2 separate regions of the Homo sapiens genome follow, and region 1 is linked to region 2. The links come from fine-mapping of genetic effects on gene expression. A gene starts in region 2. The other region holds a variant in brackets. All regions are shown on one strand. Distances are from middle to middle.

Region 1 (15,296 bases), 270 kb after region 2:
CTGTAAGAATGCTTGCTACAGTATCGCTTTTAATGAGTGGAAACTGGAACTAATCTAAATGTCTAAGAGTATTGATGGGTTCCATAAATTTTGCCATGTCCATAAACTGTAGTACTGTGCAGTATTAAAAATGTCATGGAGGAATATTTAACGGAACGATGTTCATGTTGTTGGAATGACTGTCATTTATTTGATGTTGTTTTATTTGATTTTTTAAAATGGTGTACACTTTCAGTAAAAGAAATTGAGACTAAGTCTAGAATGTTAAAGAACTGAAGCAAATTTGGGGCTCCCGAGTGCCTTGGTTTCTCCTTGATCTACCCCCTAAGCACTCAGCTTTTGGCCTGGGGAACTTCTCTAGACAAGCATTGGGTTTTGTGGGCTCTGTGACAGTGTAAAGGCCCACTAGTGCTGGAAGAATTGGTTGAGGCGTGCAGTATGGCAGCTGGTGGCATTCCTGGGAACTGATCACTATCAGATGGCTTCTGTTCCAGCTCCTCTAGACCTGGCACTGTGCAAGGTACTGAACTGTGAATCAAGTCCAATACAATTGCGATCCCACCCTCTGGTTTCCAATAAACATAAGTTCCAGGCACAGGTGCCCAAGAGCTGGCCAATAACACCATGGTATTGAGAAACTCTCAGTCTTTTGGAACAGGCTCTGTTTTCTTCTCCGCTTCTCTTCCCTATTTCCCTCCCCTGTCCTCCCCATCCCCCACCTACAGATAGGCCTGAAACCAATACAGTTTTCAAGAGGAGAGCCTTTTTTTTTAAGAAAAAAAAAAAAAAAAGTTTAAAATTAAGAAATCAAAGACCAGGTGCGGTGGCTCATGCCTCTAATCCCAGTACTTTGGGAGGCCGAGGCAGGCGGATCACGAGGTCAAGAGATCAAGACCATCCTGACCAACATGGTGAAACCCCATCTCTACTAAAAAAAAATACAAAAAAAAGAAAAAAAAAAAAACTACTCGGGAGGCTGAGGCAGGAGAATTGTTTGAACTTGGGAGGCAGAGGTTGCAGTGAGCTGAGATCATGCCACTATGCTCCAGCTTGGGTGACAGAGTGAGATTCTGTCTCAAAAAAAAAAAAAAATTAAGAAATCAAATTTAAGTATAGGACCTTGAAAGGGATCATGTATGTAAGGGGTCTGAGCTTAAGCTTCATATGCTTCATGGTAAATCTACCTCTAATTCTGACTTTGGTTTCTCTCATTTGCATGAATTTTCTTTTAGGTTTTTTTTTTTTTTTTTTTTTGCATATTTCTTTCGTTTTTTCTTTTGAGACAGATTCTCACTCTGTTGTGCAGGTTGGAGTGCAGTGGCATGATCTTGGCTCACTGCAACCTCTGCCTCCTGGGTTCAAGCGATTCTCCTGCCTCACCCTCCCAACTAGGTGGGACTACAGGCGTGCGCCACCACACCCAGCTAATTTTTGTGTTTTTAGTAGAGACGGGGGTTTTTACCATGTTGCCCGGGCTAGTCTCAAACTTCTCAAGTGATCCGCCCACCTCAGCCTCCCAAAGTGCTGGGATTACAGGCATGAGCCACTGTGCCCAGCCCGCATATATATTTCTAAACTGTGTGAAATATTGCCTTACAGATTTTAAACCAGTATGTAAATGGCACCCTGACATTTTAACACAATTTGTTTTTTACACTCAATTCTTTACTTGGGAAATATATCCATGTTGATATACTAAGATTTGGTTTCTTTTCATTGCTATGTAATATTCCATTGTGTGACTACCAGAATCACTCTATTCTCCTGTTGCAGTTTTTCAGTAAAAATAGCAGGTTATAAGACAGAAGCAGGATGTAAACACACACACACATTTTCGTGCTGTAGGGCAGTTAAATTAGCCCCATTTTGTTGTAATATTAGAATAGAATTAGGTCAATAAAACATTATTCCAAAAAAAAAAATCCAGAAACAACACTACAAAAATGGAATGTGATGCAGGCAACGTTTCGAATCAGTGAGGGAATATGGACTATTTAATAAATGGTATTGGCCGGGTGTGGTGGCTCATGCCTGTAATCCCAGCACTTTGGGAGACTGAGGCGGGTGGATTACCTGAGGTCGGGGGTTCAAGACCAGCCTGGCCAACATGGTGAAACCCCATCTCTACTAAAAATACAAAAATTAGTCTGGCATGGTGGCAGGCGCCTGTAATCCCAGCTACTCGGGAGGCTGAGGCAGGATCATCACTTGAGCCCGGGAGGCGGAGGTTGCAGTGAGCCGAGATCACGCCATTACACTCCAGCCTGGGCAACAGATTGAGACTCCGTCTCCAAAAAAATAAAAATAAAAATAAATAAATAAATAAATAAATAAATAAGTGGTATTGACAGAATCAACTCTGTGTACACAAAATAAATAAAACTAAGTCGCTACCTTATGTGGTACACAAAATTATACTACAGATGAATTAAAAACCTAGCCCTTCAATATAAAAATTTCAAATTGTTAGCTAAAAATGTATAAGAAAATACTATGATCCCAAGTAAATGGAGATCTTAAATAAGTCACAGAAAATAAAACTCATGCAGTAAAAGGCTGAACATTTTAATTAGGTCAGTGAATAAATGTCATCCAAATAGTAAAAAAGGAACCATACAATAAGATACCCCAATGTTAAAGACAAGCTGAGGGCTGGGAGAAAACTTTGCAATGTATGTTTCAAAGAATGAGTAAAACAGATGAATTTTTAAAAAAGCCCTTTAGAAAAATGATCTAAGGGATGGGCACAGTGGCTTACACCAGTAATCCCAGCACTTTGGGAGGCCGAGGCTGGTGGATCACCTGAGGTAAGGAGTTCAAGACTAGCCTGACCAACATGGTGAAACCCTGTCTCTACTAAAAATACAAAAATTAGCTGGGCGTAGTGGTGGGCACCTGTAATCCCAGCTACTCGGGAGGCTGAGGCACGAGAATTGCATGAACCTGGGAGGCGGAGGTTGCAATGAGTGGAGATCTCACCATTGTACTTCACCCTGGGCAATGGATCGAGACTCCGTCTCAAAAAAAAAAAAAAGAAGAAGAAAGAAAAATGATCTGTGGATATGCATAGGCAATTCACAAAAGGGGAAATACACATGGCCACAAACACATAAGAAGATGCTCAAACACATTTTTTATCAGGCAAATACCAATGAAAACAATGGCGAGATACTGTTTACACTTACTCAGCTGGCTACCTTGAAAGATCTGGTAGGTGAAGGGTTGTCAAGATCGCAGGGGAACAGGAACGTTCATACTCTGTTTTCATATTTAAAATGGCGAGGACAATTTGGGCATACCTCAGACCCACAATTTCCTCTCACAGGAATTTAGAATAGAGAAAGGGAAAACACAGACGTTTACTGCAGTGTTGTTTGTAGTAGTGAAAAGTTGTTAATGATATTAACTGTCCGCTAAAAGCTTAAGAGGTCAAATAAAATATGGTATATCCATATAATGGAATGTTATTCAACACACAAAAATCCTTATATATATTATTTATATGTGAAATTATATATGTGTATACATATATATACATGAATGCATATGAAATTCTGGAAGGAAACACTTCAAACTCCCAAGAGCGGTTGGGCACCAGAATAGCAGGGAAGGGTTTGGAACTGTGGGAGGTGGTCAATGGGTAATTTAGTTTTGTATATGATGCCTGCTTTTGTTTAAAAGGGGCATGTATTTGTGTATCTCTTTTTCAATCAAAAATAATTTAAAATATAAAAGACTGGAAGGATGCATTGTACGTTCACAGTCCTATCTCTTGGGAACGAAATTATCAGTGACTTTTAGCTTGTTCTTTTTTCTTATCTGCATTTTCTAAAATTTCCACAATGTTTGTCTACCACATTTGTAATAAGAAAACTGTTATTTTTTAAGGATTATGGAAAGTTTAAAAAATTCTCAAAAAGTTAGTTTTAGGTTATCTTAAATATACTACCACTCTCTCCTCCATCACTTAGATAAACAGCACTGTATTTGGGAGGGGTGGCCGGTTTTTTATTTTTTTGAAGTTTGAGACAAGGTCTTGCTCTGTCACCTAGGCTGGAGTGCAGAGGCACAATCATGGCTCACTGCAGCATGGACCTCCCAGGCTTAAGAGATCCTCTCATCTCAGCCTCCCAAGTAGCTAGGACCGCAGGCATGCACCACCACTCCCAGCTAATATTTATTTTTGATTTTGGTAGAGATGGAGTCTCCCTCGGTAGCCCAGGCTGGGCTCAAACTTCTGAGCTCAAGCAATCCTCCTGCCTGGGCCTCCCAAAGTGTTGGGATTACAGGTGTGAGCCACTGTGCCTGGCTTGTGTGGCAGCTTTTATTGCAAAATTAGATAACTCCCCAAACTTTGGAAGTATTTTTTTAAAAAGCTTCCAAGATTCACTTAGCCAAGGCTGCTCACGGGGTTTAAGTAAATGGCTCTTCCACTTTTCACTGATGTTCTATTAACCAGCATACTCCAAGGATTTGACTCACTGACAATAAATATTTAACTCCAGTTAAGCATAGCTACTTTCTGGAAATGTGTCTTCTTAGATAGCTGAGGGTTTATCCTTTTAAATTCTTTAAAATTTTTACGTTGTAATAATTTCTAGAATATTTTACCTACTTTCCTGCCTCTGAACACAGAGCATCTAGTTCTAGCCTTCTCAGCCTTGCCATTTCTGAAGGCTGTCATGTATTTATACTGTCAGTATCTGCCTTCAAGCACCATTTTTTTCTTCCAATTCACCGTGGGTTTAGAAATTAACTTTTTGGGTTTGTTTATACAATAATCAGCATGACAGCTCATACCAGAGGATTCCCTAAGATCAAAGAACACACAGACTTTACGAAATCTATTTTGGCTGTTTCCCAGCCCTTTTTGTTTGTTTGTTTTACTGCTTTCTGATTTTCAGTGGTGTTCTGAAGTGCTGGCTTCAAGTTTGGGAGGCAGTAGAGGGTAGAGAGGAAAGAACAGCTTCATTCCTTGCTAAACTGTGATCTCTCTAAGGTCAAAAGTTGTGCCATGACCCCAAGGCTCTTGTTAAAGAAATTAGATGCCAATAGATGAAATGTGAGAATAGCGCTATATTGAAACAGAAACTGGAGTCATACAGTATCTTCTATAAGATTTTGTGATTTTATACAAGAATTCCCCAAGACAGATCAGGTGATTATTAATAACCCCTGAAAGTCACAACTCTATGCAGCTGAGAAGGTAGGAGCCCAGGGAGGTGTGTGCAGAGCTGAGGCTGTCATCATAGACCTATTCTTTGCAAAATCTGAAGGGGGAGGGAAGGGAGAATGTAAAACTGGGCTGCAAAGCTCAAGTCTCACAAATAAGGACTTTTCTTATTTGTATGTCACTTCATACTGCGATAACCAGGCAGTAACATCATGGGTGGTGATTCACAACTGAGTTCCAAGCCTCTGAGTCCAGGAAGTTATGGCTTATTAGATGTTATCACTTCACTGGGAGGGGATGATGATCAGATGTAATAAAAACACAAAGGATGAAGATTCCAAATTCCTTTAAGAAGGAGAGCTTTCCTTCTCAAGAGTGCAGGGCCTGGGCAAATTGCTCCTATGGCAGGTACATGCAACAAAAGCTCAGAGCAAAATAGTAAAGAAAAAGGGGTTGGCCTGTTTATAGGTCTCCTCCAGGGTCCGCCATTCATTCTGACAGATGACAGCTCCTCATGAGTCAATGTTATGCAGGAGACTCGAGGACGAAGCACAGGAGTTCGGGAGAGATGAGCTGTCCATGTCTCTGAGCTTTTCCATCACTCTGTGCCTCAATGTCCCTTCAATAAGGCAAGTTTCACCCTTTGCTCTGCAGGAAGGCAGAAATAAATGACTGTGCTCGAGGAAGTACTTAGAGTCAGCAGGGGGTTGTGTGAGATCAGAGTATAGCCTTGTCTCCCCTAAAAGGCCTAATCCTGAATGGGGGAGTCAGGTGACCATCCTCTTTGGGGTATAGTTCATTCTGGTGCTTGACTTCCACCATAGGAGATTTGGAACACCCATTGCGAGGGCATTCAGAATGTGCTTGAACTCCTGGAATATTGGTCCTGGAAAGGGCCTTAAGGTTCAGTTCCCTCATTTTCTAGACACAGAAATGGCGGCCCAGAGAGGTGGAGGAATTTATTTAAGATCACACAGCTATTCCCAAATCCAAGCCTGCAGATCATAAGCCTGGTACTCTCTCTACAGACTTTCTCAAAGTGGGGTCCCCTGATACTGCACCTCAGAATCACCTGGTGTGCGTATGCGCGTAAGGGAGATGTTGGTAGTGGTGAAGAGAGTTGCTAAAAATGCGAATTCCTGGGTCCTACCTTAGACCTACAGAATCAGAATCTCTGGGAGTGGTCCCTGGGAATCTGTATTTTAGCATCAAGTGACTCTTAAGCTAGTCCTGCTTTATTTCAGCAACACCTGGAAGTGCTGGCTTCTAAATGATCTATGCAGCATAGCTATCGTTGATGAAACGTCTCCTAGAGAACATAAAAAGAGCATATCCTATTAGTAGCCACTGGACAATGCCATGTCCTCGATTGTTTACAGTGTATGATAATTAGTTTAATGTCCTATAAGCCAAAATCATACCAGACAATGTTTTGAACAATCAAAGCAAGCTGGAGAAACAAACATACCTCATATTGGCCCTTTAAGAGCCTCGGTTCCCCTGGGTTCTAATGAGGGTGTGTGCTGGGGACAGGTCACTCCCAGCTTATCCTACCATACCCACCACCTCTCTGAGAGATCTCGCTCCGTACATGCGGCTCTGGCCTGAGAGCAGATGGTTTCCGATATAGGACTGAACCCGCCCTCTCTCTAATCAACCAGAAAGGACCTGGCAAGTCAGTGGGAGATAAATATAGCTGAGCTCTCCTGGGAGGAGCCCCCAGGAGGGTTAAATATGGTATGTGAGCAAATGATGAACAGATCAGCGCTTCCTCCTACTGTCCCCCGAAGGTCGTTTTCACAACAGGATCAGCTGCACAACACTCACAAAACAGAAATGGACTCAAAGATAGAAACTCCAAAACCGGCTGGATTCCTGTTACTCCATAACAGCTGGCCCCTCAGGGAGGACTTGCCTCTTGGGTGGCCGTGTACCTGATTCTCCCACCTGCCTTGCAGCTTGTCCTTGCCTGCCTCCAGAGGCTTCCGTGGAGTCAGAGCCTTTGAGGCCCTCTCTTGCTCTTATGTCCAGGTAACATGGAGCAAAGATAGAGCTGAATTTTAAGAACCGCCCTGTCAGGGGAAACCACTCATTAAAGTCAAACTCCTTGGCCGCAAAACCGCAGGTGGGGGTAGAACAGGACCACAGAGGTTGCCTTCATCCTGCACGTATTTACTTTTTTCAAAGGTCATCTTTTGGCTTGAGAAGAGGAAGGAAAGCACTGTTATTTTAATTTCTCTAAAAGTTACAGTAGAAAGCAAAACCAGAGGCACCAAAAAAGCAATTCCCAAAACTCAGCTCAGTGCCCTCCAACACAAAGTGTTCAGATAACATTTCTCCAATAAATAAGCCGCTCTGGGGGTGCAGCCACTGAGGCAGGGCCGCTTCCTGCTGGGTAGCATGGGTGGCCTTTGGTGACTGCCCACACATTGTGCAGGGTGTGGACCAAACAGACTCAGAACTCTGCTTTTGTTGGTGCCCTGAGAGTACTTTGATCTCTCAGGGCCTGGTTCATATTTATCAAACTCTGAAGATTAATGTACGGAACTAGAGTTCCAACCTGTTCGTGAATTTACAGTGAGGAATAAATAACCGGGCTCCAGAGCCTGGACACATTCCCTCTCTAAAGGGAAAGCATTGTAGAAACCAAAGCGTGGCCTAGATGGTTACCTGATGAGCACAAAGCCACACTCAGGGAAAACTAGATAAATCAGGCGTTTCGCAGCATCAGTATAAACAGTAGGGCATTACACACCTGTCCAACCAAAGGCCACAGGATACTGGCATGCCACCTGTGCTCACAAGCCCTGTGTGTCCCAGCTCCAGGAGGCTGTCAGCAGATGGGACCTCTGGGCCTTGCTAGGGCTGTGTCCTTTC[C/T]GATCTCTGTGGGGACAGGCACTGCTGAAGTCTCTAGGTGTGACTCTCCTTTTACTCCCAGACTTCAAGACTCTTTTTCACGTACCCATTTTTATTTCCTTCTCTAATGAAGCATTGCTACTTGCAATCCATTATCAGTCAGACTTCATGCGCCTGAGTATCCTCCTCTCTCTTTGAGGTGGCTATGCAGCTCCGATGTACTCTATGCAAACTCTCAGCTTTGACCGTCAGAGGAAAGCCAAATTTCCCTCATTGCCAGGGTTGAGAGAGGCACCACCCCATGGCCCCCTAAGTACTAACTGATAGCAGTTATAAATCAGGCTTTGAGGAACGAAGACCGGATTGGGGATTTTTGTTGTGTTTGCCTTCTTCTCTCCTATGCTCCCAGTGCTCTGGTGTATAGTTCAAAGAGCTCTGATGGGTATTGGCCGAAACCTCCAAATGGAAGCTAAGGAGGCCACTGTACTGAGAAAATTCCTGAGTAGAAAAGTGCAGTGGGCACAGCTGTGGCCCATCCTGTCGGTGATCATTCCCTCTCTGGTATGGTTAGGCTCTGTGTCCCCACCCAAATCTCATCTTGAATTGTAATCCCCAGGTGTTGAGGGAGAGACCTGGTGGGAGGTGATTGGATCATGGGGGCAATTTCCCCATGCTGTTCTCATGATAGTGAGGGAGTTCTCATGCGATCTGATGGTTTTATAAGGGACTCTTCCCCCTTCGCTTCACACACACGCTCTCTCGCCTGCTGCCCTGTAAGACATGCCTGCTTCCCCTTACGCCATGATTGTACGTTTCCTGAGGCCTCCCCAGCCATGCGGAACTGTGAGTCCATTAAACCTCTTTTCTTTCTAAATTACCCAGTCTCAGGTAGTATCTTTATAGCAGTGAAAGAATGGACTAATACCTTCTCCTCCCTTTCTTGGTCACTAGCAGGGACTATCTGGGCTGCCTGAGGAGCCTCTTGTTTGGTTTGGGAACAGAAAATTTCAGCCTGGGAGATCCAGCACGTGGCAGCAGAGCGAGGGTTACCCAGGAGTCACAAGGAACACAAAGCAGAATCAGAGGGAGGTGACAATCAGAGAGCAGCTCAAACCTCGTGGGGTGCTTATTAAGTGCTTAATACTTACAGAATGACTTATTGACTGACTAACTGAATGAATGAATGAGTACCTGAATAGTTGGACCATCTCATTTTACTAAGGAGAGCTGGAGCCATAGAAGGAAGCTGATTTGCCGCAAGTCCCATAGTCGAGCAGTGGCACCTGGGATGGGTTTGTAGGTGACATGAGTCCTAGCTCTTTTGTTGTGATATCGCAATGATGGCAATTGGATAAATGAGGGACAACAGGGTGGAGAGAAGGAAATAAGGGTGAAAACTAGAAATCCTATAAAAAGAGTAAAATGATTTTGAGTCCTCTTATAGAAGAGTTTCTATAGAGGTTGAGTTTCTTGTAGAAGAACTTGATCAGCGCTGGCTCCAAAGCTTGCCCTTGTCTTGGCCCTTGATAGCACACCTTCTGTACTCCTCCCACCCCCATCCACCCCAGTCAAGCATCTTCCTGGAGAAGGCACCATTATTTATTTCCTTTCTTTTCTATCTTTAGTCCCTCCCCTCTCTATGCCCCATAGGTGACATGTATGATCAGCATCTCATTCTAAGTAAAATTTTCACTAGATGTAACTCCCTTATTTCTCTTTTATACTTCAGCATCAAACTCCTAGAAAAAAGTGCCTAAGCTGGGCATAGTGTAATCCTAGCACTTTGGGAGGTCGAGGTGGCAGATTGCTTGAGCCCAGGAGTTTGAGACCAGCCTGAGCAATGTGGTGAAACCTCGTCTGTACTAAAAATACAAAAAAAAAAAAAAAAAAAAAAAAAATTAGCCGGGAGTGGTAGCACATGCCTGTAGTCCCAGCTACCTGGGAGGCTGAGGTGGGAGGATTGTTTAAGTCCAGGAGGTGGAGGCTGCAGTGAGTCATCATTGCACCAGTCTGCACTCCAGCCTGGGCAACAGAGTGAGACCCTGTCTCAAAAAAAAAAAAAAAAAAAAAAAAAAAGAGCCTAGACCTGCGCTGTTTAATATGGTAGTCACTGGCTCCATGTAGCTGTTAATCACTGGAAATATGGCTAGGCTGAATTGAGATGTGATGTAACTATATATAAAATATGTACTGACTTCAAAGATAGCATGAAAGAAGAATGCAAAAATCTCATCAGTAATTATTTTGGATAAATTGGGTTAAATAAAATATATTATTAACATTAATTTCACCTTTTTCCTTTTACATTTTTTAAGGTGGCTACTAGAAAGTGTAATATTACATAATGTAGCTTGACTTCTATTTCTACTGTCTAGACTCTGCTTCAAAGCACCAACAGACCATATCAAACACAAAGCACGGTGCTCCTGAAATTAAAATGGGCACTGGGTTTATGGAAGCGCTTGTGTTCTCAAATCATCATTTACAACTGCCTTTTAAATGAGGGAGCGCTGAGGTTTTGACATGGGAAATTGTGATGAAAATAACAAGGTAACTTACTTGTTAATCAGGAAATTGGGCTCTGAAAGGACAGTGATGGTGCCGCCAACATTGGCCCAGTCTTTATGTCTCTCATGAGACATCCTGGCCCAGTAATGTTCTCTGAGGCTGGGCATGTGCCTTCCTGAGGACAGTTAGAGCCTTCTGTGACCAAATAGGATGCCCACAAAGCATTTGATGCCCCAAGCAGAGGAGGAAAGAGTGGGGAGGGAGCGTAGAGTCATTGAGGAGCCCCTGACAGCAGGAAGGACCTGAGCCCTGATGCCGGCTCTGCATGGTCTTGTGTGAGTCACGGAACCCTCTCGGTTTCCCCATCAGTGAAATCCATGCCCTGTAGCTTGGTGCTGTCTCTGGAGTTTCTGCCCTTCTTTCTTACATTTAGAATGTGGCAGGCCTTGAGCAAATTGCTTGAGAACTCTAAGCCTGGGTTTCCTTGTAGGTAAAATGAGGACTATGATAGTGATGACTCGGGGAGTGGTAGAAAGTCAGTGATATACTTCATACTTAACATAGTTACGACATACTGAGTGCTCAACAAATGTTCAAAACAGACAACTAAAAACTCAAAAATTAAAAAGGACCTGAAGGGCCAACCTGTCTAACTCCCACCCAAATTCAAGAATGTCCCTATATTTTCTTTAACCTCTGCCTCAGCTCATTCGCTGCCATTGTCTCACAGGGCAGAGCCTTATTTGTTTGCTGATTTTTTTATTAACCCATTTAAGCCTAGAGTTCCGTAATTGCAACGCTAAGCATGTGGGAGTTATTTATATCCTACTGCTCAAGGTCATCACCAAGGTCTGCAAAAATTCCAAAAATTGCATAACCTCAGGCATAAATGGGTTAAAAATTTAATTTTTCCATTATTTATTGTGGTAAACGACACGCAACATAAAGTTTACCATTCTAACGATTCTTTTTTTCTTTTTTTTTGAGATGGAGTCTCACTCTGTTGCCCAGGCTGGAGTGCTGCAGTGGCTCGATCTCAGCTCACTGCAACCTCCGTCTCCTGGGTTCAAGTGATTCTCCGGCCTCAGCCTCCTGAGTAGCTGGAATTGCAGGCACACACCCCAGGCCCGGCTAATTTTTGTATTTTTAGTAGAGACAGGGTTTCACCATGTTGGTTAGGCTTGTCTCAAACTCCTGACCTTTTGATCCACCTGCCTCAGCCTCCTAACGTGCTGGGATTACAGGCGTGAGCCACAGCACCCAGCCTCTAACCATTCTTAAATGTACAATCAACCGGCATTAAGTACCTTCATGTTGCTGTGCAACCATCACCACCACCATCTTTAGAACATTTTCATCTCCCCAGACTAAAACTCTGCACCCATTAGCACTAACTCCCCATTCTCCCACTCTCCCAGCCCCTGGTCACCCCTACTCTGTTTTCTGTCTCTATGAATGTGACTCTTTTAGGTACCTCATGTGAGTGCAATCACATATTGTCCTTTTGTGACTGGCTTATTTCACTTAGCATCATGTTTTCAACGTTCATCCATGTTGTAACATATGTCAGAATTTCATTGCTTTTTAAGGCTGAATAAAATTTCATTGTATGTATAGAGCACATTGCGTTTATCCATTCATCTGTTGCGAGGCCCTTGGGTTTTGAAATTTTTAGTATTTCTAACTACTAGTTCCTTCTTATAGGGAACTGAAATCTGCCCTTCTAGGACTTAACTCTCACCCCTCAGCTCTGCCCTCAGGCCCCACTGCACCAGATGAGTCCTCTTCCCACAGGAATCCCTGGATTTGAAGGGAGATCCTGAATTCCCACCCCAACTCTTCAAAGGCTGAGAAGTTTCACTAACTATTCATAAATTGCAGACTCATTGCCTTTGTGGTTTAAGTCTTCAGACCCACTTCAGTGGACTGATGTCTTTTTGAAAACGAGTCATCGTAAACTGAGCTGACCTGTACCCTACGCTGGAGAAATTGGGATAAATACAATATATTATTAACATTAATTTCACCAGTTTCCTGTTACATTTTTTAAGGTGACTACTAGAAAATTTAAAATTATGTATGTGGCTTATAACAGCCTCTCTTATCTTGACACTTTATTAATGCAGCTTAAGAACACATTCTCCTCTTTTTGGCAGCCATATTTCATGGATTTATTTATTAAACAATTTTTATTAAGTGTCCTGAGAAGATGAGGCACTTCAGCGTAGTAGTTTAGAACTTGAGCTCTGGAGCCAGATTTCCTAGGTCAGAATCCAAGATCCATCTCTTGCTGTGTGCCACTGTATACATTTCCTAAATTTTCAGGGCCTCAATTTCTTTATCTATAAAGTAGAGATAGCAGTAGTACCCACCTCATTGAGTAGTTGTGAGGGTTAAATGAATTAGTGCCTGTAAAACACAGATGAGTGCCTGGCACTTAATGCATGTGCTATGTCTCTCTACAGAGCACTGCCCCAAGGTGTTGGGGGTACGGCAGTCAGCCAGGCTGACCGGCTATGGGCTCTTTGTGGTTTGTAGTCTAGTGAAATGGTCAAACCATTACGTGACAACTGGAATTTATTCATGGGCAAAGGTGTAATGAAAAGATAGTTTTTGTTTGTTTGTTTGTTTGTTTGTTTGAGATGGAGTTTCGCTCTTGTTGCCCAGGCTGGAGTACAATGGTGTGATCTCGGCTCACTGCAACCTCTGCCTCCTGGGTTCAAGCGATTCTCTTGCCTGAGCCTCCTGAGTAGCTGGGATTACAGGCATGTGCCACCATGCGTGGCTAATTTTGTATTTTTAATAGAGACGAGGTTTCTCCATGTTGGTCAGGCTGGTCTCAAACTCCCGACCTCAGGTGATCCACCCACCTTGGCCTCCCAAAGTGCTGGGATTACAGGTGTGAGCCACCACACCTGGCCAAAAGACAGGTTTTTATGTAGAAACAAACCTCTGTCAATTACATGACAGGATACAAAATCTTATGATGAGAGAATTCAGAGTGATACAGGAGTACCGAACATTTATCTGCTCATTTATAAAAAATAAATACTTTTTAGGTTTCTACCATGTCTTACAAACCTCTGTAGATTCTGGAAAGTATCCGTAAACAGACTGAAGTTCTGTCTCTCTTGAGACACATTTTTTGGGGGGAAACAGTTAATAAACACCAACAAATAAGCACAATAAATAAAACCATAAATAATCCAGTTAGACACTTAAAAAGACTATATACAGCTATACTGTATATTGGAAAGGAACACTTTGGAGGTAGAGCTGGCATGATTCTTGACTGATGGAATTTTCTGTGTGAAAGACAAGGACTTAAGAATGACTCCAGGGTTTTCGGCTTGAGCAACTAGAAGCAAACCTGTGAGGTCAGCATGTCTTCCCAGAGGAGGTGACATCTAAATGGGGACTGGAAGGACGAGTAGCAACCATCCAGGTGAAGAGAGCCAGGGAAAATTGTTCTAGGAGCTGGAGTTTGTGCCAAGCTTGGGGGGCGAGGACAATGCCATGTGAAGTTTTATCTGCTTAGGAGTGCTGAGTCTCGTCCAGTAATTCCCTAATGTTTAGGATTTAAGGGTAAAATTTTATACTTTTAAAGATTTTAAAAATAATTTTGAGGCCAGGCGCAAGGGCTCACATCTGTAATCCCAGCTCCTTGAGAGGCCGAGACAGGTGGATCACCTGAGGTTGGGAATTCAAGAGCAGTCTGACCAACACGGAGAAACTTCGTCTTACTAAAAATACAAAATTAGCCGAGCATGGTGGCAGATGTCTGTAATCCCAGCTACTTGGGAGGCTGAGGCGGGAGAATCGCTTGAACTCTGAAGGTGGAGGTTGCGGTGAGCCGAGATGGTGCCACTGCATGCAGCCTGGGCAACAAGAGCGAAACTCTGTCTCAAAAAAAAAAAAAAAAAAATTGAATTTTAACATTCTAAGAAGTGACTCCCCCTAGCTTTGTCTTCTAAGAGGTTGATAAATCTGCATCCCAGGACTTTTTCTAGTAGTTGATTAAAAAAAAAATAGTTGAGTTGAACCTAAGTCAAGGACAGAGTCCTTTGTCCCACCCCCTTCCTGCTGATATTGTCACCATTAATCAACCCTCCTGGGGTGCAGCAACAAATGGACCCAAGTATCATAAAATTACACGGCCTGCATTTCTCCAGCTTACTCCTTAATAACAGCCCTAAGAAGGAAGGGAGATAAGATATCTGAAAGTGCTGGAAAGTTATCAAGTTGCTATTTTTTAGGATGACTTGGCCACCAACTTCCAGGAATGGAGAGACACTGAAACTAAGGGAGTTCACTGCTCTCCTAGGACAGTGACAGAAGGACAGAGGGGAATACAGCAAAGCTACAAGAAGGCACTCTGTGTTTCTACCTGTGTAAATGTGCTCGACTGTAACACCCTTGTGCCTGGGTGAGTGCACAAGCCTTTTAAGAGAAACATAGTTTATTTGTGCCAAATTGATCAATTTTGAGAGCCTGCTAATGCCCTTAAAGTAAGTTTTATGGATGTGACACAATTGATGGGAATTTGAATTGATCTATATCTTAAAATTAAGTTCATTAAACTGAGCAAATCATGTTCATGTCCTGATTTTATATACTTGCATTTATCAAATAGATTTTGATTTTTGGAAAAAAAAAAAAAAGGACAATTTTTTTTTTTTTTTTTTTTTGAGACAGAGTCTCCCTTTTGTTGCCCAGGCTGGAGTGCAGTGGTGTGATTGCAGCTCACTGCAACCTCCAC
Region 2 (14,243 bases):
TCTGATCACAATATGACACTAGAAATCAGTATCAGAAGGAAAAGAGTAAACTCCTCAAACATGTAGAAATCAACAAGCTTTTAAATAACCAACGAGTCAAAGAGGAACTCATACAAGAAATTAGAAAAGATCTGGAGATAAGTGAAGCAAAAAACACAACATACTAAAACTTATGGGATGCAGTAAAAGCAGTGCTAAGAGGAAATGTTATCATGGTAAATGCTTATATCAAAAAGGAAAAAAGACCTAAAATAAACAATCTACACATTAAGAAACTAGGAAAGGAAGAATAAACTAAATCCAAGGTAGCGGAAAGAAGGAAATAAAAAAAAATAGAGGAGAGATTATTTTAAAAAGAGAATAGGAAAACAGTAAAGAAAATCAATAAGCCCAAAAGTTGATTCTTTGAAAAGATTAACAAAATGGAGAAATCTTTGGCTTGATTTATTAAAAAATAAGAATCCTCAAATTACTAAAATCAGAAATGAAAGTGGGACATTATTGCTGATTCTACAGGAATAAAAAGGGTTAGAAGAGAGTACTATGAAAAAATGTATGCCAAAAAAACACATTTATCTAGCTAAAATGAACAAATTCCTAGAAACACACAACCTACCAAGACTGATTTATAATGAAATAGAAAATTGGAACAGACATAACTGGAAGGAGATTGAATCAACAATCAAAAACTTCCCTGGACCAGATTTGTGTCCAGCCAAATATTTAAAGAAAAATCGGCTGGGCACGGTGGCTCATGCCTGTAATCCCAGCACTTTAAGAGGCCGAGGTGGGCAGATCACAAGGTCAAGAGATCCAGACATCCTGGCCAACATGGTGAAACCCCGTCTCTACCAAAAATACAAAAATTAGCCGGTCGTGGTGGTGCACGCCTATAGTCCCAGCAACTCGGGAGGATGAGGCAGGAGAATCGCTTGAACCCAGGAGGCGGAGGTTGCAGTGAGCCGAGATTGCGCCACTGCACTCCAGCCTGGCGACAAGAGAATGACTCCGTCTCAAAAAAAAAAGAAAAAGAGAAAAATCAACCCCAAGTTTTCTCAAAGATGTGAAAAGGAGGGAACCCTTCCTAACTGATTCTATGAGGCCAGAATTGTCCTTACACTAAAGTCAGGCAAAGATACTACAAGAAAGAAAACTACAGACCAATATCCCTTATAAATTTTGCTGCAAAAATCTTCAACAAAATAATAACAAACTGAAACTAACATTTACAGATTTTTATTATTTATTTATTTATTTATTAAAGACAGTCTTGCTCTGTCAGCACGCTGGAGTGCAGTGGTGTGATCATAGCTCACTGCAGCCTTGAACTCCTGGGCTCAAGTTATCCCCTTCCCTCAGCCTCCCAAGTCACTGGGACTTTAGCTGCCTGTCACCACGCCCAGCTAATTTCTTGTTTTTTTTTGTAGAAATGGGGTCTTGCTATGTTGCCCAGGCTAGTCTCAAACTCTTCGGCTCAAGCAATCCTCCTGCTTCGGCCTCCCAAAGGGCTGAGATGATAGGTGTGAGCCACCATGCCTGGTTCTGAATCAAACATTTAAAAAAGTATTATACACCGGTCGGGTGCAGTGGCTCACGCCTATAATCCCAGCACTTTGGGAGGCTGAGGCAGGTGGATCACCTGAAGTCAGGAGTTTGAGACCAGCCTGGCCAACATGGCAAAACTCCATCTCTACTAAAAATACAAAAATTAGGCTGGGCACGGTGGCTCACACCTGTAATCCCAGCACTTTGAGAGGCCGAGGCTGGTGGATCACCTGAGGTCAGGAGTTCGAGACCAGCCTGACCAACATGGAGAAACCCCATCTCTACTAAAAATACAAAATTAGCCGGGCCCGGTGGGCATGCACCTGTGATCCCAGCTACTTGGGAGACTGAGGCAGGAGAATCACTTGAACCCACGAGGCGGAGGTTGTGGTGAGCCGTGATCGCACCATTGCACTCCAGCCTGGGCAACAGGAGTGAAACTCCATCTCAAAAAAAAAAAAAAAAAAAGAGCCAGACGTGGTGGCTCACACCTGTAATCCTAGCACTTTGGGAGGCCGAGGCGGGCGGATCACGAGGTCAGGAGATGGATACCATCCTGGCTAACACGGTGAAACTCCATCTCTACTAAAAAATAGAAAAAGTAGCCGGGCGTGGTGGTGGGCACCTTAGTCCCAGCTACTCGGGAGGCTGAGGCAGGAGAACAGCCTGAACCTGGGAGGCGGAGCTTGCAGTGAGCCAAGATCGCACCACTGCACTCCAGCCTGGGCGACAGAGCAAGACTCTATCTCAGAAAAAAAAAAAAAAAAAAATTAGCCGTGCTTGGTGGCAGTTGCCTATAATGCCAGCTACTGAGGAGGCTGAGGCAGGAGAATCACTTGAACCTGGGACGGGGAGGTTGCAGTGAACTGAGATTGTGCCACTGCACTCCAGCCTGGGCAAAAAGAGTCGAGACTCCATCTCAAAAAAAAAAAAAAAAAACGGATTATACACCATAATCAAGCGGGATTTATCGCTGGAATGCTGACATGGTTCAACATATGAAAATCAAAGTAATACAGCACATTAACAGAATGAAGGACAGAAACCACATAATCCTCATCTCTTTTTGTTTGTTTGTTTTTGTTTCTGGGACAGCGTTTCACTTTGTTGCCCAGGCTGGAGTGCAGAGGCTTGATCATAGCTCACTGCAGCCTCCACCTCCTGGGCTCAGGCAAGCCTCGTCCTTCAGTCTCCCCAGGAGTTGGGACTATAGGTGTGCCACCATGCCTGGCTATTTTTTTTTTTTTTTAGTATAGACAAGGTCTCCTTGTTGCCCATACTGATCTCAACTGATGCAGAAAAAGCATTTGACAAAATTCAATACTGTCTCATGATAAAAATGCTCAACAAACTAGGAATAGAAGGAAACTAGATAGACATAATGAAAAACATATTTGAAAAATGAAAACCAACATAAGGATGAAAGACTAAAAGATTTTTGTCTAAGATTAGGATCAAGACATGGATGCCTGCTTTCACCACTTCTATTCAAGATAGTACTAGAAGTCTTAGAGCAGTTATGCCAGAAAGAGAAATATGCTCATTCAAATTTGAAAGGAAGACATAAAATTATCTCTATTTGCAGCTGCCATGATCTTATACATAGAAAACCCTAAAGATTTCACAAACATTTATTAGAATGAATAAACAAATTTGGAAAAGTTGCAGAAAAAATCAATACACAGAAATCAGTTCCTTTTCTATTCACCAACAATAAACAATCTGAAAAGAAAATTAAGAAAGCAATTCCATTTACAATGGCATGATAAAAATACTTAGGAATAGACTTCACCAACAAGGCAAATAACTTGTACACTGAAAACTACAAAATGTTCCTGAAAGAAATTAAAGAAAACATCAATAAATGGAAGGACAGTCTGTGTTCATGGATTGGAAGACTTAAGATGCCAACACTACTCAAAGCAATCTACAGATTCAATGTGATCACGATCCAGATACCAATGATGTATTTTTGCAGAAATAGAAAGATCCATCCTAAAATGTATATGGAATCTCAAGAACTCTAAACAGCCAAAACAACCTTGAAAAAGAAGAACAAAGCTGGAGGATTCATACTTCCTCTTTTCAAAACTTAACTAAAGCTATAAGAATCAAAGTAGTGTGCTACTGGCAGAAAGACAGACATATAGACCAATGGAATAGTATAAAGTGCCCAAAATTAAACCCTCACAAATACGGTCAAATGATTTTTGACACAGATCTCATAACCACTTGTGTTAGGCCATTTTTGCATTGCTATATGGGTAATTTATAAAGAAAGGTTTAATTAGCTCATAGTTCTGCAGGCTGTACAAGCATAATGCTGGCATCTGCTTGGCTTCTGTGAAGCCTTAGGGAGCTTTTAGCTTTTATTCATGGGGGGGAAGGTGAAGTGAGAGCAGGCACATTATTTGGTGAGAGTGGGAGCAAGAGAGAAAGGAGAGAGATGCTGTAACCTTTGAAATGACTAGATCTTGCACGAACTAACTGAGCAAGAACTCACTTATCACCATGGGATGGTGCTAAACCATTTGTATTAGTCTGTTCTCATGCTGCTAATAAAGACATACCCAAGATGGGATAATTTATAAAGTAAAGAGGTTTAATTGACTCACAGTTCCACATGGCTGAGGAGACCTTGCAATCATGGCAGAAGGCAAAGGAGAAGCAAAGGCACATTTTATATGGCAGCAGGCAAGGAGAAGTGCAGAGCAAAGAGGGGGAAAAGCCCTTTATAAACCATCAGATCTCATGAGAACTTACTCATCATCATGAGAACAGCATGAGGGTAACCACCCCCATGATTAAACTACCTCTCATTACAAATCAAGATGAGATTTGGGTGGGGACACAGCTAAACCATGTCATTCCACCGCTGGCCCCTCCCAAATTTCATGTCCTCACATTTCAAAACACATAATCATGCCGTGGCAACAGTCTTAACTCATTTCAGCACTAAATCAGAAGTCCAAGTCCAAAGTCTCATCTGAGACAAGTTAAGTTCCTTCCACCTATGAGTCTGTAAAATTAAAAGCTAACTAGTTACTTCCTAGATACAAGGGGGTATAGGCATTCAGTAAATACACCCATTCCAAATGGGAGACATTGGCCAAAACAAAGGGGCCACAGGCCCCATGCAAGTCCGAAATCCAGTAGGGCTGTCATTAAACCTTAAAGTTTCAAAATTATCTCCTTTGACTTGATGTCTCACATCCACGTCATGCTGGTGCAAGAGGTGGGCTCCCAAGGCCTTGGGCAGCTCTGCCCCTGTGGCTTTGCAGGGTACACCCCCTTGTCCTGGCTGTTTTCACAAGCTGGTGTTGAGTGTCTGTGGCTTTTCCAGTTGCATAGTGCAAGCTGTTGGTGGATCTACCATTCTGGGGTCTGAAGGATGGTGGCTCTCTTCTCATAGATTCACTATGCAGCACCCCAGTGGGGATTCTGTATGGGAGCTCTGACCCCACATTTCCCTTCTGCACTGCCCTAGCAGAGGTTCTCCATGAGGACTCCACCCTGCAACACACTTCTGCCTGGACATCCAGGCATTTCCATACATCCTCTGAAATCTAGGCAGAGGTTTCCAAACCTCAATTCTTGTCTTCTGCACACCTGCAGGACCAACACCATGTGGAAGCTGGCAAGGATTGGGGCTTTCACCCTCTGAAGCCATGACCCATGCTGTACATTGGCCCCCTTTAGTCATGGCTGGAGTGGCTGGGTTGCAGGGCACCAAGTCCTAAGGCTGCAAACTGCAGGGGGACCCTGGGCCTGGCCCAGGAAACCAATTTTTCCTCCTAGGCCTCCAGGTCTGTGATGGGAGAGGCTGCCATGAAGACCTCTGATATGCCCTGCAGACATGAAGACATTTTCCCCATGGTCTTGGTGATTAACATTTGGCTCCTCATTACTTATGCAACTTCCTGCAGCCAGCTTGAATTTCTCCTCAGAAAATGAGATTTTCTTTTCTATTGAAATGTCAGTCTGCAAATTTCCCAAACTTTTATGCTCTGCTTCCTTTTGAATGCTTTGCCATTTAGAAATTTCTTCCTCCAGATACCCTAAATCATGACTCTCAAGTTCAAAGTTCCACAAATCTCTAGGGCAGGGGCAAAATGACGCCAGTCTCTTTGCATAGCAAGAGTGACCTTTACTCCAGTTCCATCAAGTTTCTCACCTCCATCTGAGACCACCTTAGCCTGGATGTCATTGTCCATATATCACTATCAGCTTTTTGGTCAAAGTTATTCAACAAGTGCCTAGGAAGTTCCAAACTTACCCACATCTTCCTGTCTTCTTCTGAGCCCTCCAAACTGTTTCAACCTATGCCTGTTACCCACTTCTGAAGTCGCTTCCACATTTTTGGGTATCCTTTGTGAAAGGAAAATATCTTGGGCCCCCAAAATCACTAAGCTAAAGTGAAAATTCAAGCTGGGAACTGCTTAAGGCAAAACCTGACTCCCATTCTATTCAAAGTTATCCCTCTGCTCACTGTGATAAATGCATATCTGATTGTCTCCTTTGGAAAGGCTAATCAGAAACTCAGAATAATGCAACCGTTTATCTCTCACCTATCTGTGACCTGGAAGCCCTCTGTGATGATTAATACTGCCTGTCCACTTGATTGGATCGAGGGATGCAAAGTATTCATCCTGGGGGTGTCTGTGTGGGTGTTGCCAAAAGAGATTAACATTTGAGTCGGTGGGCTGGGGAAGGCAGATCCACCCTTAATCTGGTGGGCACAATCTAATCAGCTTCCAGTGAATATAAAGCAGGCAGAAAAACATGAACAGGAGAGATGGGCCTAGCCTCCCAACCTACATCTTTCTCCTGTGCTGGCTGCTTCCTGCCCTTGAACATGAACGTCTGACTCCAAGTTCTTCAGTTTTGGGACTCGGACTGACACTCCTTGCTCCTCAGCTTGCATACAGCCTATTGTGGGACTTATGATCGTGCAAGTTAATACTTAAGAGACTCCTCTTTATATATATCCTGTTAGTTCTATCCCTGTAAGATAACCCTGACTAATACATCCCTTTTCCGCTTTTAGTTTTCCTGCCTTTGCTTCAAGTTGTCCTACCTTTCCAGACCAAACCAATGTACTTCTTACATATATTGATTGATATCTCATGTCTCCCTAAAATGTGTAAAACAAAGCTGTGCCCTGACCTCCTTGGGCACATGTCCTCAGGCCTTCCTGAGTCTGTGTCATGAGCACACGTCTTCAGCTTGGCAAAATAAACCTTTTTTTTTTTTTTTTTGAGATGGAGTCTTGCTCTGTTGCCCAGGCTGGAGTGCAGTGATGTGATCTCCGCTCACTGCAAGCTCTGCCTCCCAGGTTCACGCCATTCTCCTGCCTCAGCCTCCCGAGTAGCTGGGACTACAGGCACCTGCCACCATGCCCGGCTAATTTTTTGTATTTTTAGTAGAGACGTGGTTTCACCGTCTTAGCCAGGATGGTCTCGATCTCCTGACCTGGTGATCTGCCCACCTTGGCCTCCCAAAGTGCTGGGATTACAGGCGTGAGCCACCGCGCCCGGCCAGCAAAATAAACTTTCTAAATTAACTGAGACCCGTCTCAGATATTCTGGGCCCATATTTAATAACCATAAAGGGATTCTGAGTGGAATGCTCCCCACCTCTGACAAATCTAGCCTCTGACAAGCTAGATTTGACAAGCACCTATTGGTGCTTGGTACCAGCATGAGCTTACTTTATGGCTCAAACCTATGGGACAATTTGCTGAGGTCTGAGAGCAACCCACCCCTCACCCCTCCGCCCCACCAAGAGAATTACTATCTTCCCAAATTTGGTTGAAATCTAAAGTTTATTTTGCTATACAACTTTTTTTTTTTGGAGTTTTACTTGCTTCCAACAAGAAAGGCAAGTTTTCCTGCTTCCATGATGATGGAAGATAGGTAACTCCTTTATGGAGTTTGAGCTCACTTCCAACAGGGAAGGTGAGTTTGTTGTTGTTGTTGTTGTTGTTGTTGTTGTTTTGTTTGTTTTTCTGCTTCTAGGATGGTAGAGAGTGGTCTACAGCCTGAGATCCATTCCTAGATAAGCAACTGAATTGGGGTTTATCTTGGCTAAAGTTAAGATTAAAAACCAGCTGGTCTTTATTTCTCCTTACCATTACAGTGCTCAGGAATTATGTTAAGTTGTGAGATTGTTTGTTTTGCTTAACTTTTTTGTTGTTGTTGATGTTTATTTGTTTCTGTTTTTGTTGTTTCAGTCTTTCTCCCGTTGGGTTTGACCAACTCTGTCCAACTCAATCAAATCCGAAGGAAAGTTCCAAATTATGAGGAACAAGGCCTCTAAAGTGGCTAAATTCCCATACACAAAAAAAGGTGGTATAGTGAGGGGAGAAAAACGGCCAACAAAAGAAAAAAAATAAATAAAAACTTTTTTTTTTTTTTTTGAGACGGAGTCGCTCTCTGTCGCCCGGGCTGGAGTGCAGTGGCGCGATCTCGGCTCACTGCAAGCTCTGCCTCCCGGGTTCACGCCATTCTCCTGCCTCAGCCTCCCGAGTAGCTGGGACTAAGGCACCCGCCACTACGCCTGGCTAATTTTTTTGTATTTTTTGGTAGAGACGGGGTTTCACCGTGTTAGCCAGGATGGTCTGGATCTCCTGACCTGGTGATCTGCCTGCCTCGGCCTCCCAAAGTGCTGGGATTACTGGCTTGAGCCACCGCACCCGGCCGGCAAGAAAAATGTTTTATTTTTATTACTTAAGGGGTTTTATTTACATAACAAAGCCTCCTTTTTGCTAACCAGGCCAAACTGAAAGCAATGGCTGTCCCCCTACTCTGCAGTTCAATAGCTAAGGTTCTGCCTTTTTTTTTCTCCTGTCTTCATGACAGCCTAAGTTTGGTTCCTAAATCAAGTCCTTTCTGGTTTGATAGTTGGTACTTCTGCTTTTTTTTTTTTTTTTTTTTTTTTTTTGAGACAGAGTTCCGTTCTTGTTGCCCAGGCTGGAGTCCAATGGCGTGGTCTCAGCTCACCGTAACCTCCGCCTCCCGGGTTCAAGCAATTCTCCTGCCTCAGCCTCCCGAGTAGCTGGGATTATAGGCATGTGCCTTTTGAATTTCTTAGTAGAGATGGGGTTTCTCCATGTTGGTCAAGCTGGTCTCGAACTCCTGAGCTCAGGTGATCCACCAGCGTCGGCCTCCCAAAGTGCTGGGATTACAGGTGTGAGCCACCGCGCCGGACCAATACTTGGTACTTCTGAAATAGCAGCAATTTGTCCTAGCTGAAATATAATAATAAAATTTTGAATTTTTTTTTTTTGAGACAGAGTCTTGCTCTGTCGCCAGGCTGGAGTGCAGTGGCACGATCTTGGCTCACTGCAAACTCTGCCTCCCGGGTTCAAGCGATTCTCCTGCCTCAGCCTCCTGAGTAGCTGGGACTACAGGCGCGTGCCACCACACTCGGCTAATTTTTGTATTTTTAGTGGAGACGGGGTTTCACCATGTTAGCCAGGATGGTCTCCATCTCCTGACCTCATGATCCGCCCGCCTGGGCCTCCCAAAGTCCTGGGATTACAGGCATGAGCCACTGCACCCAGCCCAAGATTTTTTATTTTTAAAGACACTCAATAGTTAAAAGTCAACTTAATTAAAAGCTAATATTTAAAATGTATGTGTATGTGTATGTGTGCATAAGTGCATGTTCATATTTAAAAGGCCTTCATGGTTTTGTTTTTGTTTTTCTCTGCTAGGACCTTGTCTTTTTTTGAGCAAAAACTTTTTTTGTTCTCAATTGACTCAATTCTGTTTCCACTCGATTTTTTTTTTTTTTTTTACTAAAATAGTTATTGCAACAGAGGCTACTCTTGGGTTTTTAAGAAAGAGTATAGTTTAGACACTTAGAAATGCTTTGTTTACAAAAATGTTTTAAGTGCACTGTAAAAGCATCATGTGGTCTAGCCTCATAATAATTCTCCCTTTTTGGAGACCCAGGATTCAGTGTGGGCTCTGCCCAGAGCTCAGAGATCCAGTTAAAAAAGAATTGGTAGTCCCTATCTAAATAACAGTGGTCTCCTTATACAATCCAGTGATAAATTTCTATAATTTTATGTTCAATTGGCAATTAAATCTGTTTTAATTTCCCTCTAGCTCACAGAATTTCTCTTCAGACCTTATAATGTAAATTTTGCTATCTGACTTTCACCTGAGTTGTTTCCTTTAATATGCAAATTTAAGACTATTTAGCTGACTACTGCCTAGCACTGTGAAACAGGTTATCAAGAATCTGAAAGTCTAAGATAAAGAAAAAAGGTTTTTATGAATCTGTAAGATGTACTTCTTCTATCAGCATGCCTAATACATCTATGTATTTATATGTTATGTATACAATGTTGCACTCCTGAAAATATATCAAAGAGCTCTAATTAATTGTCTTAAAAAATAAAAGCATTTACATCAAATACTTTATTAGAAAAAGGAAAGACTAGTCAAATGCTTTTTCAAGTTATGTGACTTAAGTAAAATCTTTAATAAATAAGCTATCTTTAAAATTATTGGTAAAGTAATATTAGAAATGTCTTAGGAATTGCCAGCATACATTTTTATTTGCGTTTATTAATCAAGCAATTTCATACTTAACCCTGCCAAATACTATTAGGTGTCAAAATTTGGCACAGGCTATAAACCCAGCCCAAGACAGAATGATCTCTGCTCGTGTAACCATTAATAAATAAGACATTGATACTGGTTTAATGAAAATAGCTACATCTTGATTTAGTAAAATTACCATAACTTCTAATCTTGTGGCAGTCTAGGCAGTCTAGTCCACAGGCAGTAAGGAGTTTTGTTTTGGGAAAGGACTGTTATACTTTGTTTCAAAGTTAAACTATAAGTAAACTTGCATGGGAAGAGAATGTTTAATTTTGTGAAAAACGACCAAACTGTCTTCCAAAGTAGCTCTTAGAGACAACCTGTCCACAGAAGAACGCAGCAAGCCCCCTCCCCTAAATGCCCTGCAGCTTATTTCTTCTGAGATGCTGCCCCTACTTCACGTTACCAGAACTTAGGTACAGCTGTATCCACCCCCAGGCCAAACCACATCCTGGTACTCTAAGCCAGGTGGGGCAAGAAGTGACAAACAACTGCAGGATGTAGACTAACCTCAGAAAGCCCCTAGGCCCTCAAAGCCCTATATAAGTCCCTCACCTTAAACACCCTGGGCTGCCTCCTCTGACTGTTATGCAGCAGGCCGGCAGGTCAATAAACTTGCTTGCCTGACTTTGAGTATACTCGTCTTTTCTCTTGGCCAACCTTACGGTAGCTGTACCAGTTTGCATTTCCACCAGCAATGAATGAGAGTTCCTGTTGCTCTGCATCCTCACCAGCATTTGGTGTGGTCAGTATTTTGGATTTTCACCATTCTAATAGGTGTGTAGTAGTATGCTATTCTTGTCTAATTTGCTGTTCCCCAATGACATATGATGTTGGGCATATTATCATATACTTATTTGCCGTTGGTAGATCTTCTTTGGTGAGAGGTCTGCTCAGATCTTTTATCCATGTTTTAACTGGGTTATTCTTTTTCTTTTTTTTTTGAGTCTTAAGAGTTCCTCGTGTGTTTTGGATAACAGTCCTTTATCAGAGATGTCTTTTGCAAATAGTTTCTACCAGTCTGTGGCTTATCTTCACATTCTCTTCACAGTGTCTTTCAGAAAGCAAATAATAATAATAATAATAATTACGTCTAATTTATCAATTATTTCTTTCATGGATTATGCTTTTTGTGTTGTATCTAAAAAGTAATCATGATGCCCAAGGTCATCTAGATGTTTTGTCTTCTAGGAGTTTTATTGTTTTGTGTTTTTACATTTAAGTCCATGATCCATTTGAGCTGGCTTTTGTGAATGGTGTAAGATCTGTACCTGGATTTGTTTTTGTTTTTGCATGTAGGTGTACAGTTGTTCCAGTGCTCATTGTTGAAAAGACTCTTTGAACCATTGTATTGCCTTTCTTTTTTCGAAAGGTCAGTTGACTGTATTTACATGTGCCTATTTCTGGGATTCCTATTCTGTTCCATTTATCTATTTGTTTATTCTTTAACTAATACCACACTATCTTGATTACTGTTGATTTATAGTAATTCTTGAAGTTGGGTTGTATCCGTCCTCTGACTTATTTGTTCAATATTGTGTTGGCTCTTCTGGGTCTTTTGCCTTTCCACATAAACTTTAGAATTAGTTTGTTGATATCCACAAAATAACTAGCCATGATTTTCACTGGGATTTCACTGGATCTACAGATCAATTTGGGAAGAATTGATATCTTGATAATATTGAGTTTTCCTGTCCATGAATATAAAATGCCTCTGTATTTATTTAGTCCTTCATAGATTTCTTTCATCAGAATTTTGTAGTTTTCCTTATGTAGAATTTGTACATACCGTGTTAGATTTATACCTAAGTTTTATAGGGGGGTGCTAATGTAAATGGTATTGCATTTTTAATTTCATATTCCACTTGATCATTATAGGTATATGGGAATTGACTTTTATACATTAACTTTGTATCTGCAATCTTGTTCTCATTGCCTCTTAGTTCCAGGACATCGATTTGGCAATTCTTTCATAATTTTCTGCATGGATAATTATGTCTTCTATAAAGACAGACCATTTTATTTCTTCCTCTTCAGTCTGTACAACTTTTATTTCTTTTTCTTGGCTAACTGTGTTAGCTAGGATTTCCCGTACAGTGTTGACTAGGAATGGTGTGAGCAGACATTCTTGTGTTATTCCTGATTCCACTGGAAAACGATCTAGGTTTTCACCATTAATTCTTATGTTGGCTGTAAGGTTCCTGTTTATGTTCTTTATCAAGTGGAGGATGTGTCCCTCTATTCCTAGAGTGCCGAGACTTTTTATCATGAGCTGGTGTTGGATTTTGTCAAATGCTTTTTCTGCATCTAGCAATATGATCATATGATTTTTCTTTAGTCTGTTGGTGGATTATATTAATTGATTTTTGAACATTGAACTAGCCTTGCCTAGCTGTAATAAATTCCGCTTTAACCTGGTGTACAATTCTTTTGATACATTGTGGGTTTCAATTTGCTAACATTCTATTGATGATTTTTGCATCTATATTCACAAGATATATTGTTTTGTGTTTTTTCTTTCTTGTAATGTCTTTGTGTGGTTTTGGCGTTAGGGTAATCCTTGCCTCATAGGATCAGTTGGGAAGTATTCCTTTTGTTTCTATCTTATAAAAGAGATGGCACAGAACTGGTACAACTTTTTTCTTAAATATTTGGTAGAACTTATCAAATGAAACCATCTGGGCCTAATGCTTTCTGTGTGGATGTTGTTAATTATTGATTCAATTAATTAGATATAAACATATTCAAGTGGTCTGTTTCCTCTTGTGTGTTTTGGCAGAGTGTGCTTTCAAGAAATGTGTCCATTTCGTCTAGGTTATCAAATTTGTGGACATACAGTTATTCATAGTATTCCTTTATTATCATTTTCATGCCCATGGGATCTGCAGTAATGTCCCTTATTTCATTTCTGATATTGAGTATTTGTTTTTTCTCTTTGTTAGCCAGGCTAGAGGTTAATCAATTTCATTGACCTTTTCAAAAAATCAGCTTTAGGTTTTGTTGATAATCTTTTGAGTTTGTTTTCAATTTCATTGATTTCTGCTCTTTTTATTATTTTTTCTCTTCTGTTTAATTTGATCTTAATTTGTTCTTCTTTTATAGATTCCCAAGGTGGAATCTTAGGTTATTTTAGATCTTTCTTCTTTTCTGGTTTGTGCATTCATTGATATAAATTTCCCTCTATACAGAGATTCACGGATCCATCCGGGTGGTCCGGGCACCACTGGCGCCCCTCTGCGGCTATTCCCCAGTTCCATTTTCTGAAGCCACAGGTCAGAAGCCGCTGTACAACGCTTTGCCGAACTCCAGAATCTTGAAGGAGACGTAAGGTGCAGCCACCTGCCGCGCAGGCGCAAGCCTTTCTTTCGGCACAAAGACCGTGGGAGGAGGGGTCGGCGCAAGCGCTCGGTGTCTCTCTGAAAAGAACTTCATCATACTGCCTCCTGGCTGACGGAGCGCAGCGCAACGCATGCGCCTTGAAGACTTATGGAACTTATTTCACGCTCAGGGCGGCGGTGACGTGTGAACGAGAAGGAGGTGGTCAAGGAACGGAAGCCGGGAGGGAACGAGGGCGGAAGCGGACCAGGGCCAGGCTTGTGTTCGCAGCCTTGCCGGGGCTGGGGTTCCGATGTGGTCCCCGGAGCGGGAGGCCGAGGCCCCAGCCGGGGGAGACCCGGCGGGCCTTCTGCCCCCCGAGTGGGAGGAGGACGAGGAGCGCATGTCCTTCCTGTTCTCCGCTTTCAAGAGGAGTCGCGAGGTGAACAGCACCGACTGGGACAGCAAGATGGGCTTCTGGGCGCCGTTGGTGCTGAGCCACAGCCGCCGCCAGGGGGTGGTGCGCCTGCGTCTGCGGGACTTGCAGGAGGCCTTTCAGCGCAAGGGGAGCGTCCCGCTGGGGCTGGCCACGGTGCTGCAGGACCTGCTGCGGTGAGGGGCGGGCTGGGGCCAGGGCCGCGAGGGCGGGCGGGGGCAGCTCTCGGAGGGCCGGGCCCTGGTCCTGTTCTCTGCACAGCGCACTGCGCCCAGCCCAGTGTCTGGCCCAGAGAAGGCATCCAGTGTGTGTTCAGAAGGCGAAGAAGGAAA

The links.
Region 1: its variant is fine-mapped to the expression of CHMP7 in whole blood (TOPMed, PIP above 0.99).

What each region holds. Positions count from the first base shown.
Region 1 is chr8:23,502,126-23,517,421 of GRCh38, forward strand. No RefSeq gene overlaps it. Among named protein-coding and RNA genes, the nearest start is that of SLC25A37, 19 kb to the right of the region's middle. RefSeq lists a cis regulatory region at 6,498-7,354 and an enhancer at 6,882-7,111. The variant C/T (reference allele first, on the strand shown) is at 8,051.
Region 2 is chr8:23,232,908-23,247,150 of GRCh38, forward strand. It overlaps CHMP7 (charged multivesicular body protein 7), which reads left to right and starts at 10,730. Exons shown (of 11, transcript NM_152272.5): 1 at 10,730-10,937; 2 at 13,349-14,087. The coding sequence starts at 13,789. RefSeq lists enhancers at 10,422-10,923, 13,493-13,742 and a silencer at 13,763-14,243.